Linked DNA regions of Homo sapiens. The protein of the gene in region 2 purifies or fractionates together with the protein of the main gene of each other region. This does not show direct contact. Each region holds a gene or a part of one and is shown on either strand. Other genes may lie near its edges.

Evidence for each region.
Region 1: the proteins of PAXX (region 2) and XRCC4 purify together in Homo sapiens (affinity purification with western blotting; 2 studies listed by BioGRID and IntAct, with this or other methods). This does not show direct contact.

What each region holds. Positions count from the first base shown.
Region 1 is NC_000005.10:83,107,405-83,118,000, forward strand, and holds part of XRCC4 (DNA repair protein XRCC4), read left to right. Parts: intron 1-3,623; coding exon 3,624-3,799; intron 3,800-10,596.
Region 2 is NC_000009.12:136,984,669-136,994,589, reverse strand, and holds PAXX (protein PAXX), read right to left. Parts: upstream 2,169-9,921; 5' UTR 2,147-2,168; coding exon 2,028-2,146; intron 1,951-2,027; coding exon 1,890-1,950; exon of another isoform or gene 1,886-1,889; intron 1,666-1,885; coding exon 1,616-1,665; intron 1,538-1,615; coding exon 1,347-1,537; intron 1,248-1,346; coding exon 1,179-1,247; intron 1,011-1,178; coding exon 926-1,010; intron 825-925; coding exon 785-824; coding exon of another isoform or gene 724-784; 3' UTR 614-723; downstream 1-613. Other genes in the region: LCNL1 (lipocalin-like 1 protein), read right to left, coding at 9,579-9,877. UniProt on the Homo sapiens protein: Non-essential DNA repair protein involved in DNA non-homologous end joining (NHEJ); participates in double-strand break (DSB) repair and V(D)J recombination.

The DNA.
Region 1 (10,596 bases), on a different chromosome or scaffold from region 2:
ATTACTGCAACCTTCAATTTGGACAATTTTTTTTCTCTTTTTATTTGAGTGAAATTAAAAGGATGTAAGTTTTCTTTTAATCTCCCCTACACTAAACTCACTGATTTCCATTAGCAATGTTTTATCTAATGAATGTTTTTGAGGTCCAATTATCTAATTATCATGTGGTCTATCATCACATCAGTATTACAGGCGGTTATATCACAGGGGTAAGTCACAAAGTGGGTTAATGATCGATGACTCTGACTTTCATAAGAATTCCTATTGGCAGTAGGAAACTTATATCACCCATCTCTGGAGTAGTTTGAAGTTTATTAAAGAGTAAATTAAACTTTACTAATTGTTCTATTATCCACTAATTAGATCCACTTATAATTATCTTGAGTGTAAATATTTTTTGACTTATATGGAAATAGTGACAGAACTCAGTGGAAAGAGGATTTTAATAAATCAAGCAGTGAAATGGGTTTATGATGCAATACCAACTAGAATCCTAATGGTATGATAAGACTGTATGTCTTCTGAGCTCCAGTACAAGCTTAGGATGTGTGCAGGCTTTTGGCTAGTTATATATAGGTATCTGAAGGAAAAAAATCTTCTTTCCTCACTTACATCTTCATCTACCTATAAACACTGCAAAAGTGATGCTTTTCAGTGTTAAAGTGAGTCTCAGTCTGACTTCTACCAGTTCCTTGTTTTTTGGTCATGTTGGGCTGCTCATGTTTTATGCCTTATTATGTGGTTCAGTTGCATTCTTGCTGAATTTTATTATTTCCATTGCCTTTATTCTTGGTCACTGAAGTTTTAGAGCATCGCGTGCTTACAGCTATACTTTTTCCAGATGTTCTTGGCACAGAATTCAAAACTGGTGACCAGGTTGGTTTTTTAGGATTGAAGCCCTATGTAGGCAGTCAGATTTCCATGTTTACTTTTATAGGAATTTTTCAAGTACATTTTTGAACAAATAGCTGTTTTACATAATTAATTTCCTTTCATACGTTTTTTTCTCCTTCAAAAATTAAATATTCCGTAATAATCAGCACAGTATTTATTAGGAGAGGAAAATAAGAGGATATCTAGGATGATAACTGACAGATATCTAAAATGTTGTCTAAGATATTAGCACTTGAATTTGAGCTCCACAGGCTAGCATTTTTGGAATGAATGAATGATTACATATTTTCAGACAGGTATCTTTTCATTTTAATGAAATTTAGAATACTTTTAACTAGATGCTTTTTAAATAGATGTTCTCTGTTTTCTTTTGTGTTTTCTTCAAGTTTTTCTATGGCCGCATTAAAGATGGCATCTACAAATTTATTTCCTATTTCTCTGTGAAATAACTGTTCTTCCTAGGTATTGGTGAGTTAAAGTTAGATAGTTACTTTTTAACATAATGCAAACACAAAATATGAAATTATTCCTTAAATAGGAAGCATTTATCTTCTTCTTTTTTTTTTTTTAGAAGAGCTACTAGGGCATTTGAAAGATCAATAGGTTTGATAGTGATGATCATATTAAATGTGTCCACTTCCAATAGAGAAAATGTGAAAGTGTTTTAGAAGCTGTTAATATATGAATATAAGCTATTTTTATTCTTACCTCCTTCCAAAGGTTGTGTGACGTATGAGAATCATATTTTATTATCAAAACTTGTTATCAAAAATTGATCATATAAAAATATTGGTACCTTGCAAGACTCCCTTTTTCATTAACTGTCATGGGTCTTCCAGACACTTGATAGCATAGAGACCAAAGGTATGAAAATGTGTGTTCCATTTTAGGGATTCTTTAATCATGATTTCCTTATATTCTGTAATATTTTATACTAATGTTGTTTTTCAAAATTATGGATGGAAATAATTTATCCAATGTTTCATGTCTCTGCTTCACCTCAAAATAAAACATGCAGAGAGATATGAGTATTAATCCCAGCTTCACTAGTTACTTACTTCATCACCCTAGACCATTACTTGATCTCTGTGAGCCTCAGTTTTCTCTTTTGCAAAATGAAAATAATATCTGTTTTTCAGTTTTATAAGGAATTAAAATAGATAAGTGTAATGCATAAGTATGAAATTATACAACCATATGAGACTTTTATCATTACTGTGATAGCCTAAATTAACACAGGAAACCATCCAACCACACACACATTCCAACAAATAACGAGATTGAATCTTGTAATTTTAAAAACAAACAAGTATGCAGACCCATTGCCACTTTTGAGTGTAAGAAAGGGAAAACCTCAGACACCATGTTTGAAGAGGTATTTCAAAACCAAAGTAATTGATGAGAATTAAAGCTTACTTGTAGATTCATGGAATATCTGAACTAGATATACTTCTAGATGACAGTGAGTATAATGTTTGAGTGAGGTAGAATGTTGAGGCTTCAGACCTCTTAGGGAATTGGAGTTGAGCTCTCAGCATAAAGAAAGGAACCTGGAAAATATATGCTGTTAATAAAATAATCTTTTAAAAAAACTACTACTCTCTGTCCAGAGGATGCAGCATAAAAACAGAACAATCCCTAAGGACTATGAGTGAATAAAAGTCTCAAGAAAAATCAGAACCCTAAACCTGTGTTATGTGTGGATGGGAGGTTTAAAATGGAACACTTTGCCTCAAATGTAAAAATCGAGGTGAGAAATTAACTTTCAAAACTAGTCCCAAACTGATAAAACTTGTAATGACCCCCAGAAAGGCAACCTTCATTTAAGACCACTTCTTCCCAGAGCACTTGCCACTTTGGCTAGAGGTGAGCTGTACTCAAATGTTACAAAGCATGAAAGGAAAACAAGTAAAACAAGAATTTTTCCACAGATAGAAGAAACATAATTTATACCCCAGGAGCCACACATAAATACAGAAATGAAAGAGATCTTAAAATACGTTTATTTAAATATTTAAAAGAAGGGTAGGATAAGAACAGGATATAATGACAAAGGAACAAAGATAATATCTAGAATTGAAAATATAATTATTGAAACAAAAATCTCAATGATAGTAAAACATCAGCTTTAAAAATACCTAGATAAGAGAATTGGAAGCGGTCTCTAGTATAGTATGTGTTGCAGAGGAGATGCTCGTACATTTTAGTTTCCTTCCTATTATTTCCTTATCATCTCCTTTCATCCATATTTTCTGTTGTTGGCACATGATATGAGAATAGTGAGCTCCACTTTTGCTTTTGTTTTACTCTGCCCATATGAGTGAGAAACACAGTATAGGCTATTGAATCTTTGATGCAAGGAAGAAAGATGTTATAAAATACTGAACTTATTATTCATTGTAGGAAATTATCTGGCTTTGACCTAAGAGCAGTTACACAAAGTGGGAGTTTCTGTAATAATTTACAATGCGTTTCATCTGAAGACAGAGAAAGAATGTCAAGGGTTTAATGTATTTTACGAGATGTGAGTCTAAATTAATGCATTTCTCAAAAATTGCTAGTTCAGTAAAAAGGAATAATTTGATTTAAAAATGTGTAGTATAGGGATTGATTTTACTTGTTTGAATTTCTGTTACATGTGATAAATTAGTACTAACAGATAAACTAATATTTTCTCATGTGTAGTCATTTACTTTTCATTTTAAAACTTTTGTTAATATTTCCCATAGTTTCTGAATCAGAGATTTCCCAAGAAGCTGATGACATGGCAATGGAAAAAGGGAAATATGTTGGTGAACTGAGAAAAGCATTGTTGTCAGGAGCAGGACCAGCTGATGTATACACGTTTAATTTTTCTAAAGAGTCTTGTTATTTCTTCTTTGAGAAAAACCTGAAAGATGTCTCAGTAAGTAAAACTTTCCAAAATGTTACATAGTAAAATGTCAGAGCATTTATTGAGGAATTATATTTAAATTTAAGTGACTACTATATTATTCCCAGAACACCTCAGAAGCAAAAGCTTGAAAAGTACTTGGTTTCCAAATTAGAAGAATACTTCAAAGCTAAAGTCATTAAATATATTAATGAATCATGAAAAATAAATATTGGAAAATGTGTTTAGTTTTTAATGCTTGAAAAATTTTAAAGTATTACAGAGTTAATTATACAAAAGAATAATCTTGAAAAAGGTGAGATCAGAAGTTTTAGGCCATCGTGACAGGTCTTATTGAAAAAAGTTTTGTGAAATATTGATTTTAAGAAATAAAATCAATCAAAATATATCTTTGAATATAGAATAATTATGACTTATTTTCTACTTTACTAGAGTATATTTGAAATTGAAAAATGCATAGTAAGTATTAAGGATACTTTATATTGTCAGATTTAAAAATATTAAAATAGAAATAACTTGAAGCCTAAGCTTTGCAAACAAGAGTATCTGCTACTTATTCTGCTCAGTTCCTGCACCAATTCAGATCAAGGCAGGTGGTTTATTTATTAAAGTCTGGCACTAATTATTTGTATATTTTACCTAAGTTTAATAGATACTGAATTTGTTTTTTTAACCAGTGGTTTTCAGTCATATATGAGATCTATCATTTCTGAAGGAGAGGGAAGGAAATGTTTGCTACATTAAGTTAACAGAAATGTATTGAGAATTTGTTTTAGTGCTCAACTGAGTTTAGGAAATTCTTTTAAATCAACCTTTTAAATTTGGAATAATTAAAGAGATTTCATTAATTAGATAAACATTTGTAGAAACAAATGGAGTCATTATAAATTTATATTATCGTGTAGGGAATAATGCAGAGAAACTACCCTTAGTAATTTATATTTAAAATAAACATACTTTTTCTAATTAGCTGCCAATTTATATAAGTTTCAATATGCTGAATTTCTTAAAATGGTAATTTAAAATAGGTTCAGTAAGAAGGTTGGAACTAGCTACTACAATTTTGTTATTTATTGTAAGTGTTCTTTCCTGTGGCCCAAGCTCAATCGGATGATATTATATGTTACAGAAGTGCAGACTCTTCTAATGTTTTGAAGCAGATCATTGCCAAATTGGGATTAATGCCATTTCCCATTCACTAAACATTTGCATGTAACAACTAGCATTATTTTGTGCAGCGATTTTCTAGTTTTTATCTGTTTCACACATATTGATACATAATAAATTCCAAATTAGTGAGGTACATTTTAGAAGGCTGAAAGGCTTTTGAAATTTTTGACATGCTAAAAGACGGGGCTTGGTACAGTTGGCATGTATATTAATCTGTTCTCACACTGCTAATAAAGACATACCCAAGGCTGGGTAATTTATAAAGGAAAAAGATTTAATTGACTCACAGTTCCATATGGCTGGGGAGGCCTCACAATCATGGTGGAAAGCAAAAGAGGAGCAAAGTCACATCTTACATGGTGGCAGGCAAAAGAACATGTGCAGGGGAACTCCCCTTTATAAAATCATTAGATCTCATGAGACTTATTCACTATCATGAGAACAACACAGGAAAGACCCCTCATTCAGGATTCAGTTACCTCCCGCTGGGTCCCTCTCATAACACTTGGGAATTATGAGAACTACAATTGAAGATGAGATTTGGGTGGAGACACAGCCAAACCATATCATTCCGCCCAGCCCCTCCCAAATCTCATGTCCTCACATTTCAAAACCAATCATTCCTTCCCAAGAGTCCCCCAGAGTCTTAACTCATTTCAGCATTAACTCACAAGTCCACAGTCCAAAGTCTCATCTGAGACAAGGCAAGTTCCTTCTACCTATGAGCTTGTAAAATCATAAACAAGTTAGTTACTTCCCAGATACAATGAGGGTACAGGCATTGGGTAAACATACCCATTTCAAATGGGAGAAATTGGCCAAAACAAAGAGGCTACAGGCGCCATGCAAGTTCGAAATCCAATAGGGCAGTCATGAAACCTTAAAGTTCCAAAATGATCTCCTTTGACTCCATATCTCACATCCAGGTGATGCTAATGCAAGAGGCGGACTCCCACAACCTTGAGCAGCTCCACCCCTGTGGCTTTGCAGGGTACAGCTCCCTTCCTGGCTGCTTTCATGGGCTGGCATTGAGTGTCTGTGGCTTTCCCAGGGGCACAGTGCAAGCTGTCGGTGGATCTACCATTCTGGGGTCTGCAGGAAAGTGGCCCTAATCTTATAGCTTCACTAGGCAGTGCCCCAGTGGGGACTCTGTATAGGGGCTCCAACCCCACATTTCCCTTCTATACTGCCCTAGCAGAGGTTCTTCATGAGGGCCCTGCCCCTGCAGCAAACTTCTGCCTGGACATCCAAACATTTCTTTCTTTTTTTTTTTTTTTGAGACGGAGTCTCGCTGTGTCACCCAGGTTGGAGTGCAATGGCGTGATCTCCATCTCCACTCACTGCAAGCTCCGCCTCCTGGGTTCATGCCATTCTCCTGCCTCAGCCTCCCAGGTAGCTGGGACTATAGGCGTCCGCCACCATGCCCAGCTAATTTTTTGTATTTTTAGTAGAGACGGGGTTTCACCATGTTAGCCAAGATGGTCTCAATCTCCTGACCTCGTGATCCGCCCGCCTCAGCCCCCCAAAGTGCTGGGATTACAGGCGTGAGCCACCGCACCCAGCGCAGACATTTCTATACATCATCTGAAATCTAGGCAGAGGTTCCCAAACCTCAATTCTTGGCTTCTGTGCACTCGCAGGCTCAACACCATATGGAAGCTGCCAAGACTTGGGACTTGTACCCTCTGAAGCAAGGCCCGATCTGTACCTTTGCCTGTTTTAGCGACTGCTGGAGTGACTGGGATGCAGGGAACCAAGTCCCTAGGCTGCACGCTGCAATGGGGGCCTGGACCTGGCCCAGGAAACTGTTTTTACCGCCTAGGCCTCTGGAGCCTATAATGGGAGGGGCTCCTGTGAACATCTCTGACATGCCTCGGAGACATTTCCCCCATTGTCTTGGTGATTAACATTTGGCTCCTTATTACTTATGCAAATTTATGCAGCAGGCTTGAATTTTTCCCCCAAATATGGGCTTTTCTTTTTTATTGCATCGTCAGGCTGCAAATTTTCCAAACTTTTATGGTCTGCTTCCTGTTGAATGCTTTGCTGCTTAGAAATTTCTTCTGCTAGATACCCTAAGTCATTTCTCTCAAGTTGAAAGTTCCACAGATCTCTGGGGAAGGGGCAAAATGCCCCCAGTCTCTTTGCATAGCAAGAGTGACCTTTAGTTCCCAACAAGTTCCTCATGTCCATCTGAGACCACCTAAGCCTGGACTTCGTTGTCTGTATTAGCATTTTGTTCCAAGCCATTCAACAATTCTCTAGGAAATTCCAAACTTTTTCACATCTTCCTGTCTTCTGAGCCCTCAAGTCTCTAGGAAGTTCCAAACTTTCCCACATTTTCCTGTCTTCTTTTGAGCCCTCCAAACTGTTCCAGTCTCTGCCTGTTACCCAGTTCCGAAGTTTCTTTCACATTTTCGGGTACCTTTATAGCAGCACTCCAGTCTACCGGTACCAATTTACTGTATTAGTCTGTTCTTACACTGCTAATAAAGACATACCCGAGGCTGGGTAGTTTATAAAGGAAAGAGGTTTAAATGATTCACAGTTCCACATGGCTGGGGAGGCCTCATAATCATGGCAGAAAGAGAAGGAGGAACAAAGTTACGTCTTACATGGTGGCAGGCAAGAGAGCATGTGCAGGGGAGCTCCCCTTTATAAAACCTTTAGATCTCATGAGACTTATTCACTTTCATGAGAACAGCACAGGAAAGACCCACCCCCATGATTCGATTACCTCCCACCATGTTTGTCTTACAACATGTGGGAATTATGGGATCTACAATTCAAGATGAGATTTAGGCCGGGTGCCTCCCAGCACTTTGGGAGGCTGAGATGGGCGGATCACCTGAGGTTGGGAGTTCCAGACCAGGCTGACCAACATGGAGAAACCCCGTCTCTACTAAGAATACAAAATTAGCTGTGCATGGTGGCGCATACCTGTAATTCCAGCTACTTGGGAGGCTGAGGCAGGAGAATGGCTTGAACCCGGAAGGCAGAGGTTGCGGTAAGCCAAGATCACACCATTGCACTTCAGCCTGGGCAACAAGTGTGAAACTCTGTCTCAAAAAACAAACAAACAAACAAACAAAAAAACAAGATGAGATTTGGGTGGGGACACAGCCAAACCATATCAGCCTGGATGGAGTACTTGCCATGACTGGCAGTACATCAGGTTTTACCCTTTCTATGAAGAAAGAGCTTTAAGTCCTCTTGATTCATGTCTTCTACAGTTGGTTTGGCATATATCAACATCAAAGACTCATAATAATCCTGAAAGATTTTTGCTTACCACCCTGAAAGTAAACAACTTTATCAGAGCCAGCATCTTGAACTACAGGTACTACCTTTTCAACAAATGTTCACAAGTAATGGAAGCAGCCTGAAAGATTACCAGCAATGCAAAAAGTGTGCTGGTTCCCCAGAGAATGTCTTAAAGCACTACATTGCAGTCTAAATATCTGTCTCCTTATTTATTCATTTATTTATTTGTTTATGAGAAAGAAAAGAATATTCTCAGAACGGCTTGACAAGGAGGAGTTTATTCATGGCTTGGCTTGAGAGATATTTTGGATATTTAGATGAGGTAAAACTTTCAGTGGATGGATGCAGCTGAGAGATCACAAGTTCATTTGGCCAAGGTGTCATGGGAGTCTTCCAGTATTCAGGATGTGCTTCTGCAGACTGATTTCAGAGTGACAATGTCTTGTAGATTCATCTGCTGGCAAAAAAAATCTGCAGACAATGGGAAACATGGCAGACAGAATACTTTTTTAAAGCTAATTTTGCTTGGATGACCTAAAAATTGAGAAGGAGTTTGTAATCCTTTTCTTGATGATACAAACATCTGATTGTTGCCAAAAATGACCTCCTAAACTTAGAAGAAAGGAAAAGAATGAACATAAATTCAACTAAAAAAGTTGTGAATTCTGTTGTTTCTTAATGTAAGGTTGCTCCTCCGTGACAAAGACTTGCTCCCAGATGCATACCTCTGGGAGTCAGGGTTTTAGGCATTTATTGCCATCAGTTCAAGAAATTTTGTGTATCTAATTGTGTGTTCACTGTGCAATTTGAACATTTTGAATATCTAACTTATATAAGAATTGTTTGAAATTTACATTTATAACAAACTTTCTTTTTTTCTTAAAAGGAAGTAACCACTATTTTAGTATTCAAAAATACCTGATATTTTGAAAATCCTGTCTTATGTTTTGTCTGAGTGAAAGAATTACCAGTTTCTCTCTCTCTTTTTTTTTTTTTTTTTTTTTTTTTTTTTTTGAGATGGAGCCTCACTCTGTCACCCAGGCTGGAGTGCAATGGTGCAATCTCAGCTCACTGCAACCTCTGCCTCCCAGGTTCAAGTGATTCTCCTGCCTCAGTCTCCTGAGTAGCTGGGATTACAGGTGCATGTCACCATGCCCAGCTGATTTTTGTATTTTTAGTAGAGACGGGGTTGTGCCATATGGGCCAGGCTGGTCTCGAACTCCTGACCTCAAGTGATCTGCCTGCCTCGGCCTCCCAAAGTGCTGGGATTATAGGCATGAGTCACTGTGCCCAGCCAGAATTACCAATTTCTAATGTAGTGAAATATTTAAAATTTTTAGCTTGTTTGTCAATATTTATACTCATGTTTTGGGAGCAGTGGGTCAGCAATTTTCATGAGATTGCTTTTGAGCTTATCCTCCCAAAACTTCCCTTAGGCTTTAATTGGCTTTTCTTTATAGATAACATAGATCCTTTTATTTTAACTTCATTCTCATTTGAATAAATGTTGGGCGAACAGCTACACACTAATTTCTTTTCTCCATAGAGTGCGAACCCATGTGACCCTTCCTGCCTTAGTGCTCTTCATTTAACAGTAGATTGTTCTGGTTGAAAGCATACTATAGTGCCAGCATTTGGAACTCCTCATCTCTTCAGCACAAGGACTGTCACTCACACAAGAGATCATTTGTGTGCTTTGGGCCACTGTTTTCCCTCTACCTTTAACAATTTATCCTGATTTTGCCATACAGACTTTGTCATGCTAACAATGCATCTTAATGAATAATGTATTCATCTTCCTTTTTTGCTTTCATATCTCACTCTGTTTCTTTAGAAAAATATTCATTTATGAGTCAAAGAAAAACAATTATTTTTGATAAGAATAACCTTGGGCTAGTCATTTAACCCTAATTTCCTCATGATTCTGTTTTTTCATCTGTGCAATTTTTAAGTGATTTCTTAGATTAATTCCAGCTTAGCTAACATATTGTAGAGCTACATATATATGTGTGTGTGTGTGTGTGTGTGTGTGTGTGTGTGTGTGTGTGTATGTATGTATATGTATGTATATATAAACATTTTGGCTATAAGGATATGTCTTTTTAAAAAAATTAATTTAATTTTATTTTAAGTTCTGGGATACATGTGCAGGATGTGTAGGTTTGTTACATAGGTAGACGTGTGCCATGGTGGTTTGCTGCACTTATGAAGCCATCACTTAGGTAGTAAGCCCAGCATGCATTAACTATTTTTCCTGGTGCTCTCCCCTTGCCTGGACCCCCTGACCAGCCCCAGTATGCATTGTGCCCCTCCCTGTGTTCATGTATTTTTGTTGTTCCCCAGTGAAGGAAGCTATGAGGTTTGAAGAAAAATTA
Region 2 (9,921 bases):
TTCCCATCCCCAAACCCCAGGGTGGGACGCTCAGCCCGATAGCCCAGAACCACAGGGGCAGGAGCGCCGGGGGTCGGGCCGGTCCCATCCTCCACGCTAAGAAGGCGCAGACTCCAGGCCTCCTGCAACCGGTGGCCTCAGGGATCTCCAGGACCGGACTGGGCTCCCAAACCAGTCAGGCCGGGGTGGGGCGGGGTGCCCCAGGTGGATGGGGGCTGGCACATTCCTCAATCCTGTCCCGGGGCAGGCGCTCCCCTCCCCGCAGGGCACTTCCAGTGTCTCAGGGTCTACACGGGACTTCTGTCTGCATCCTCCCACGGGGCTCCGTGCCCTACCTGGGTGCGGCCTGGGAGGGTGGGAACAAAGTTCTAAGCCTTGGGGAGCCCTGGCCCTGCCTGGCTGGGCCCCTCTCAGCTCCTGGGCTGGCAGGGCTGGAATAGCTGGACGGTCTGAGAGTGCTCACCTCCCTCCGGCCCAGCAAGGAAGTCTCCAGGGAGCTGAGAGGCTGCAGCATCTGTTCACATCCTGTGGCCCTACACCCAGAACACAGGCCCAGGGGTGTTCCCTGATCCCTTCCCAGGCCAGTGCCAGGAGTCAGAGCCCCACCAGAGCCTCCAACCAAGGGAGCTGTTTATTTGACAGGGAAGGAATTTGAGGAGCCGTGTTAGTCCTGGCCCAGGACAGGCAGGTGGAGGTGGTGGCGGGGGGTCTCTGATGGGGGCCTCAAAGACTGCCTCTCCCCTCATAGGCGGACTCCCCGCGGGGCCACGCTTGTGCTGCACCTTCAGGTCTCATCGAAGTCCACGCCACCAGCTGGTTTCTTACTGGGAGGGAAGAGGGGTGTCACTATGGCACTATGGTGTGGAGAAAGGGGTGGGGTCCAGGATTGGACCCTGGGCGCAGGAAGGGGGCTGTGGGAGGGTACCTCTTGAACCCGGGGTTGATGAGCGACTCTCCTGGACACCGCCTCCTGACTCCAGGTCCAGGGCCACCTCTCTGGGGATCTGGGTCTGGGGGAAAACAGGACAGGGGCAGCTCCTGAACCTGGCAGCATCCCAACCACAACCTTCTCCGAATAGATAGGCATTCTCTCTGGAGCGTGAGTCTTGTTTGGGGGGAAACTGAGTTCCAGGTTAAAGAGCACAGCCCTACTTGAGTCACAGGCGGACATGCCTTACCTGGTAAGAAGAGCTGAGGCCCTGCAGGCCGGGGGCTCTTCCTCGGGCTGACAGCTGTCTCTTCTGCAGCTGGGGAGGAAAGCCCATGGGAACCCCACTCAGTGCCAGGAGTGGGGGCAAGAGCAGGGGACCCCAGTGAAGGTATGAGGTGCCCACCCCCAATCCTACCTGCCAGTCGCCGCTCCAGGCTCCACACGCGTTTTGCCAGGCCCAGTGTCAGCGCCCGCAGCCTGGGGGCTGCCTCTGGGCCTGGTACCTTGGAGAGGTCAAAGGCCAGTGCCGAGGGCCCCCCTGAAAGCGTCAGGGATGCTCTGTCCTCCTGCAGAGTCAGAGCCACAGCTTGCTGCTCACAGGCTGCCCTGGGAGAGGAGAGGTGCGGAGAGCTGTGGCAGACCCTCCTCCTCCCCACCCGTCCTTCCTCCCTGCTTGGGTCTCACCTGAACCGGGGGGTGATGTCCTCAGCCGCACTCAGGCCAAAACGGGCTTTCTAGAGAGCACAGGGGCTTGTCACGAGCTGCCTGGAACCCGAGGCCCACTGGGGGCACCCGAAACCTGCCCGACCCCAGAGCCCTAGCCAATGGGAGGACTACAGCTACAGGGCGGGCAGAGGGTGTCAGAGCCTTCTGGGGAATCCCAGATGTCTGTCGCCCCATAGACGATCTGCACTGCAAGGAGGGGTGTGGCGGCTCCCAGACCCGCCCAGTTACCCACGAGGGCCGCCAGGCTGTCCGGCGTGAAGCAGGTGCTCCAAAGCTCCGCGGCGTCGGTCACGCTGGGGGAGAAGGCCTGTCAGGCGGGGCCGCCCGCGGAGCTCCCTGCACCCCTACCTCCCCGCGGACCCCCACTCACTAGAGGTTGAAGCCGCCGCGGTCCCCCTCCCCGCTTTCCTCCCCTTCGCAGTAGCACACGAAGCGGGGCGGCTCGGGGCCCGGCGGCAGCGTGCAGAGCGGCGGCGACAGCGGATCCATGGCGCCGGGCGAGCGGGAACCCGGCGGGGCGGGGCTTGGGCGCCGGGAGGGGCGGGGCTGTGCGGGCTCAGGGCTCCTGCGCGGAAGAACGACTTCCGGAGCCGGGTGCAGGCCAGTCGCGGGCTTAGGGAGCTTGCGCGGGGCGGAGTCTGGTTGGGGGCGGGGTCTGTGTGTGGAGGCGGGGTTAGGGGCGGGGTTATGAGGGTGGGGGGATTCGGGGCGGGGCTAAAGGCACAGGCCGGGCCGCGCGGACCCGGTACCCGCGCGGGCTTCAGGCGACTAGAGGCCGAGTTTAGTGCGCGGGGCGGGCCGGAGCAGGGCGTCCTGGGTCAGGGATCCAGAGGCCCTGCCCCCAGCGCTGGCCTCGCCGGTCGTGGGCTCCACGGCGCGATCCCGGGCTCTGGCCCTCGCGCCCGCGAGCAGCCCCACTCGAACCTCGCCCCCTCCCGCCCCCGCCCCGGCTCCAAGTCCAGCCGAGTCCAGGTTCCCTCCGTGGCTCTGCGGATACATCCTGGAGCCCCGCCCTTCCATCGTCTTCACACACAAACCGGAAGCTTCCTAACTCTAATCGTAAGAAGTTACGGTTGGTCCGGCAAGGTGACTCACGCCTGTAATCCCAGCACTTTGGGAGGCCGAGGCGGGCAGATTGCCTGAGGTCAGGAGTTCGAGACCAGTCTGGCCAACATGGTGAAACCCCGTCTCTACTAAAAATACAAAAAAATTAGCCAGGTGTGGTGGCGCACGCCTGTGAGGCAGGGGAATTGCTTGAACCAGGGAGGTGGAGGTTGCAGTGAGCCGAGATCGCGCCACTGCATTCCAGCCTGGGCAACAGAGCGAGACTCTGTCTCAAACAAACAAAAAAAGAAGTCACAGTACAGAGCGATCTCCAGGGAAGAAGGCTTCTGCGCTCTCTGTCCCGCGCATGGTATTCCTCCAGCTCCTCCTACGTGCCTGTTGTCCTAGGCCTGGATATCGATCAACAGACAAGGTCTCTGACTCCCTGGAGCTTCTAGGATCCAATAGGAGAGACACCACACTCTCAGGCAGGGCCAAGCGCCAGGAGAAACTGCAGCGGGTGCTATGAGGGCAGGAGGAAGAGGATGGCTCCCACCAGGGACAGGGAGATCCCAGGCGGAGGCCTGGCCACATAAATAATGGTTCTGTTCAAGGCTCGGCAAGAAGGCCAGGTTGGCAGCATGGTGCTGTGGGGAGGGCCAGTGGGTCTGTAAGCTACGCTTCCATATCGGAGTGCTCCCACAGCAAGCCTGCCTCACCTCCTCCTGCTTCCCAGTTCACTCCCAGTCCTGGCTCCTGCCCCCTGGGCCTCTGCACATGCTGCTGTTTCTGCCTGGCACATCCTTTCCCCAGACTCACATGCTTCCTTCAGGTCTTTACTCAAAAGTCACTTTAGTGAGACCTTCCCTGGTGTTGTTCTGACATTGCAGCATGCTGCCCAGCTCTCACATCCCTCTCTCCTGTCATTTCCCTATTTTTCACACTTCTCACTGTAGAAAGTACACTTTGGCTTGCTTTATTCTGGCAGCTAGCTCCCTGTTATACCCTCCTGGGTTTAGACTTTTCTGCACTCCCCTCCCCTTGGGCTGGACTTTATTAATGACTTGCTTCTGGCAACTAGAATAGGACAAAATTGCTCTTGAATTGCTGGGTGTGACATGAGGCAGCCCTAAGGGGATGACCATGGCCAGCAAGGGAACCGGGAAGCTGACGCCCCAGCTGAGCCTTCCCATGAGACCACATCATCGGCCGGCAGCTTGACCACAGCCTCCTGAAACTTTGTGTCAAAGGCCCAGAGTCCTGCCTGGCTGACACTGGGAGATAATGCATGCCTGCTGGTTAAGCAGCTGCATTTGGGGTAACCTGTCACTCTGCAGTAAGTGACCACCAATACACTTATTTACCCTGCTTATTGTCCATCACCCCAGGAGGTCCATGAGGGCAGGGATTTCTGTCTGTTTTACCTGCCAGTGTATCCGTCTCTTCAGCGCTTACACAATGGCTGGCACATACAGACACTGAATAAACATTGTGAATGAATGAATGGGGGGTGGTGGCTGTTGGAGGTTTAAGCAGGGGTGGATGGGAAGTGGCACGTCTGACTTATGTGTGTGAAGTCCGTATTCTGTGCTGTGAGGAGAGAGGACGGGGGCTGCAGAGGAGAGGGGTGGACCATGGGCTCGGACTGGAGGTGGAGGGAGGAGGAGACAAAGAACAATCAAGGATGGCCCTGGCATTTGGGAAGAGTGGAAAGGGGAGATTCATCCCCAAGATGACTGGGGTGGGGCAGATTTGGAGAGGACTGGGGGGCCTCTTCTTTGTCATGTGAACTCTGAGATGCTGGCTGTAGCAGGCCCCAGATATCAGGCCCTAATCCCTGGGACCTGTGAATGCTATTGTCTATGGAAGATGCTGGGCACTGCATTCCAGCCTGGGCAACAGAGTGAGATCCTGTCTCCCCTTCCCCCCAAAAAAAGGAAAGAAAAGAAAGGAGTGTTTGCAGATATTCCCTTGAGATGGGGTGATTATCCTGGATTGCCCAGGGAGGCCCTCAGTGCCATCTCAAGGGCCTTTTAAAAGTGAGGCAGAGGAAGCTTTGAGACAGAAAAGAAGGCAGCATGGCATGGAGGGAGGAACTGGAGCGATGCAGCCCACAAGCCAAGGATTACAGGCTGCTATCAGAAGCCAGTGTTGTGACCAAGCGAGTTATACAGAAACGCCACACTTTGAGACAAATTAAAGAGTCCGTTATTAGCCGCGACTGAGAGGCAGCTAACGCTCAAAATTCTCTCGGCCCCGAGGAAGGGGCTAGTTTTGTTTTTATACCGTGGTCTAAATAGGGGAGGGGGGATTTTAGCTGAAGCAATTTTTACGGAAGCAGAACTGGCAAAAAGTTAAAAAAATTAATTGGTTACAAATGCAGTTACAAAAAATAAACAGTTCCAGGTGCAGAGGCTTAAACTATCACAAAGAGATAAATGCAGGGGTTTTGGGTGCCATCCACCACGCGTGTCCCCAGGAGCTGCTGGTGCAGCTTGCCTCAATGTCTTATCAGTAGGTGCATTCCTGGACGTGCTTTGAGTCAGTTTACACTAGCTATGCCTTCAGGGAGGAAGGTGAAAGGGGGCCGCAGGTGAAGAAACTAAAATGGAGTGTGTCCGGCTCTCTCTCTGCCAGGAGAGGGTCACTCAGGTGGAAACAAGGTAGGGTATCCCACCAGAAGAGGCCAGGCCCAGTGGCTCATGCCTGCAATCCCAGTGCTTTGGGAGTTCAGAGTGGGAGGACTGCTTGAGGCCAGGAGTTCAAGGCCAGCCTGAGCAAGACAGCAAGACCCATCTCTAAAAAGAAAACATTAGCCAGGCATAGCGATGCATGCCTGTAGTCCCAGCTACTTAGGAGGCTGAGGCAGGAGGACTGCTTGAGCCCAGGAGTTCAAGGCTTCAGTGATCTGATCGCGCCATAGTACTCTGGCCTGGACATCAGAGCAAGACTCTGTCTCAACAACAACAAAAAAAGAAGACAAAGAAGCTAGAAGAGGCAAGGAAGGTTTCTCCCCTAGAGCCCTCGGAGGGAGCACAGCCCGGCTGATACCTCGACCCTATTAAACTGATTTTGAACTCTGGCTTCAAGCTACAAGTTTGTGATAATTTGTGGCAGCTGTAGGAACTGACACAAGACCAGAAACAAAGATTAGTTCCAAAACATGACGAGAAAACTGCAAAACCTTCATTTAACTAGCCTCAGGCTGGGTCCGTGTGGACCTCAGGTGTTTATTTTACACTTTGGCTCACACCCTGGTGTCATGTTCTGTTTCGTGGCTCACATCGGGCCAGCTTCATCTACTGGCAGCAGCTTTTCCACTGGCTTCCACCACGTCCTTCTCTGAGATACTTTTTTATACTTTTTTTTTTTTTTTTTTTTTGAGACGGAGTTTCGCTCTGTCGCCCAGGCTGGAGTGCAGTGGTGCGATCTCGGCTCACCGCAACCTCTGCCTTCCAGGTTCAAGCGATTCTCCTGCCTCAGCCTCCCGAGTAGCTGGGACTACAGATGCCCACCACCACACCTGGCTAATTTTTGTATTTTTTAGTAGAGACAGGGTTTCTCCATGTTGGTCAGGCTGGTCTCGAACTCCCGACCTCCTACCTCAGGTGATCCGCCTGCCTCGGCCTCTCAAAGCTCTGAGATTACAGGCATGAGCCACTGCACCCAGCCATGGGAGCAATTTTCTTTAATGTAGGATACATTAATACAGTGTATGAGATATAAGGTTAGTGGAGCTTTGCAAGCAGAAGGAGAGGGATTACAAAGTCCCCACGCACACACTTGAAGTCGGTGATGGAGGCAGAACAGGGGAGGGAAAGGGCTGACCTTTCCCAAGGCATAGAGCACCTGGAAGCTGGGCCAAAAAGAGGAGCAAAAGGTCCGGAGAACGAGCTCTAGGGGAGTGGGGGCCAGTCAAGTTTTGGGGTAGCAGAGGTCAACAACCAAGGGAGGTATTTGAGCAAGACTTCAGAGACGGGAGTGAGTGCACTGAGTGGCACTGGGAGAAGGGCAGTCCAGGCAGGGGTGACCTGGGCAAAGGCCCTGAGACACGTGAGGGGCTGGCAGCAGGACGGAGGGAGGGGAGTGGATGGTGGGTCAAAGGAAAGCCTAAAAGAGAAGACCTTGTTGGCCACCATCAAGACTTAGGCCTGAGGCCGGGCATGGCGGTTCACGGCTGTAATCCCAGCACTTTGGGAGGCCGAGGTGGGTGGATCACCTGAGGTCAGAAGTTCAAGACCAACCTGGTCAACATGGTGAAACCCCGTCTCTACTAAATATACAAAAATTAGCTGGGCGTGGTGGCGGGCACCTATAATCCCAGCTACTCAGGAGGCTGAGGCAGGAGAATCGCTTGAACCCGGGAGGCAGAGGTTGCAGTGAGCCAAGATCGCGCCACTGCACTCCAGCCTGAGCAACAAGAGCGAAACTTCGTTCCAAAAAAAAAGACTTAGGCCTTTACTCTCAGTGCAATGGGACCCACTGTGGGGTGCTGAGCAGGGGGGCCTGATCTGACACATCTTGTGAATCCATCCCCTGGGCTTCTAGGTGGAGAAAGGGCTGAGCGTGGGAGGTGAGGGACTCGATGCGTCTGCAAGGGATTGGGGGCTGACCACAGCTGGACCCACAGCCACCCCCAGAGGCTGCCCCACCCTGGAAGGAAGGAAAGGGCATCCCTGAGGCTGTGGAGGGCAACCTGCATTTCCCGGCTCGGAATCTTCCTGGGAATGCAGGGGGGATGCAGAGCCACTGTGCTCCGCCGAGTGGTGTTTTTTTGTTTTGTTTTGTTTTTTTTCTGAGGCAGAGTCTCGCTCTGTGGCCCAGGCTGGAGTGCAGTGGCACAATCTTGGCTCACTGCAAGCTCCGTCTCCCAGGTTCACGCCATTCTCCTGCCTCAGCCTCCCGAGTAGCTGGGACTACAGGCGCCCGCCACCACACCCGGCTGATTTTTTGTATTTTTAGTAGAGACGGGGTTTCACCGTGTCAGCCAGGATGGTCTCGATATCCTGACCTCATGATCCGCCCGCCTCAGCTTCCCAAAGTGCTGGGCCCGGCCCGAGTGGTGTTTTTTAATAACAAATTTTCTGGGCTGGGCCCAGTGGCTCACGCCCGTAATCCCAGCACTTTGGGAGGCCAAGGTGGGTGGATCGCTTGAGGTCAGGAGTTTGAGACCAGCCTGGCCAACATGGCAAAACCTGTCTCTACTAAAAATACAAAAATTAGCAGGGCGTGGTGGCGATCACCTGTAATCCCAGCTACTTGGGAGGCTGAGGCAGAAGAATCACTTGAACCTGGCAGGTGGAGCTTGCAGTGAGCCGAGATCGCACCACTGCACTCCAGCTTGGGCGACAGAGCGAGACTCCATCTCAAAAAAACAAACAAACAAAACTCTGACCAACTGAGAAGGAGAAATCAGAGCATACTGCACCCCGTAGACCCATCACCCAGATTAAACACTATCCAAATATTCACAGATTTGCAACCAGTATTTTTATTATTATTTTGCTGAACTAGGTACATTACAGCTAGTAGGCTATTTTCCTTCAAATTCTTCGAGACTTGTCTGTAAAAGACAACACTGTCCTACATAGACTCCAGGCAGGGCAGAGTTTTATGCGGCTCCTCCTGTCCTCCTCGCCCTCCACTCTCCGTGGACAGGCCCTGGGTCAGAGTTGGGAGCGCTTCGTTGGTCTCCGGAACAGCCAGGCCTCTGGGGCGGGTCCTGGAGCCAGGAGTCAGGGGCTGGGGAGCTGGGGGACCCGGAGGGGCGCCTGGGGATGGAAGCCGCCGACACTGACTGGGGCAGCCGCTTGGGAGGACCCGGAAGGCCACGTCGCGCGGCGGTGTCCGCTGAAGCCTGGGGCGCGCGCCGCGTGGTGTCCGTGTCCCGCCCTCCCGGCGCCCCCAGTCTGGGGGTCTGGGTCCGTGCGGAGGTAGAAAAGTCCCAGAGCTGGGGCTGGGGCCCGTCCTGAGGAACCTCCCTGCCACGGAGCCGAGGCTCGGTCCCTCCTGGGCTAACGCCTACCCAGAGGGGCAACAGGGGGTGACCCGGCCCCTCCCCCAGGGCGCCCATGTACCTGGCCGCCCCCCCGCCACCCCTCCCTGCCCCCAAGAAACGCACAGCGCCACAGGCATTCAGGGTGTTTATTGCGCTTGGGGCCAGGGTGTGGAGGGAGGGGGCTCTTTGGGCAGGGCTGGGCGCACGGAGCAGCTGACCCCTGCGGGCACTCAGGGGCTGGACCCCTCACTGCAAAACAAGGAGCAGGTGGGCGGCGTCCCCTGCCTCCGCCCCCTCCCGACGCGCAGCCCCGCGGTTCCCCAGGCTGCTGCGGCTCGGATCCGCCCGGGTGCCCCATCACCCCCGCTGTCGTCCCTAGCTGCCCCGAAGGTAGAGGGCCCCGCGGTGCAGCCCACCGAGCTGGGAGGGCCCATGGTCCGCGGCTCCGCATGGCCATGGTCTACTCACCCGGGAGAGCGCGCCCGCACACTGGTCTGCAGAGAGATCGAGCCTGAGGCGCCACCCCGCGCCCCCTTCCCTGGGACGGAGGCCCCCGACCTGCCCCAAGGCGATCTCCTCCTGGGAACACCGGCCTGGGCAACGTCTCGCCCTCCCCCGACCCAGACAGGCTGGGTCTGCCCCGGGCACTTCTGTCCCGAATCTGAGATCAGTGGAGTGACCAGGGCCTGGCCCTTCCAGCAGGGGTGTGACCCGGGGCCTGGCCCTCCCAGCAGGGCTGCCGGCACCGCTCACCCGACTTCGGCAGCAGGACGCCCTGGCTGGGGCTCAGGCCCACTTGGGGCGCCAGTAGCTGCATCTTCTGGGCGCCTTCGGGAAACAGCTCGGGCGCTCGAGCTGAAGGTGGGGAGGGCGGGTAAGCTAAAGGGAAGGGGCTGGAGGGGCGAAGAGAGGGAGAGAGGGGCAGGGAGGGGCCGGGACCCGCGGCCACAGACACCAGGAGCCAGCGGTTCCACCTTCCGCGTGCAGAAAGGGCTGGTGCAGGCACAGGGGTGACATCCCAGACCCGAAGCGGGGGTGTCTGGGTCTCCGCCCCGCAGCCCGCCCACCGTAGAGCTGCAGCCACTGGTTCCGCAGGCCCCCTTTCCGCATCTCCAAGTACAGCAAGGCAAAGTGCTGGTAGTCGGAGAAGGCCACTCGGATGTCACTCAGGGCCATGGCTGGAGGAGCGAGAGCCGCTGACCCCAGGCCCAGGGCACCTCCC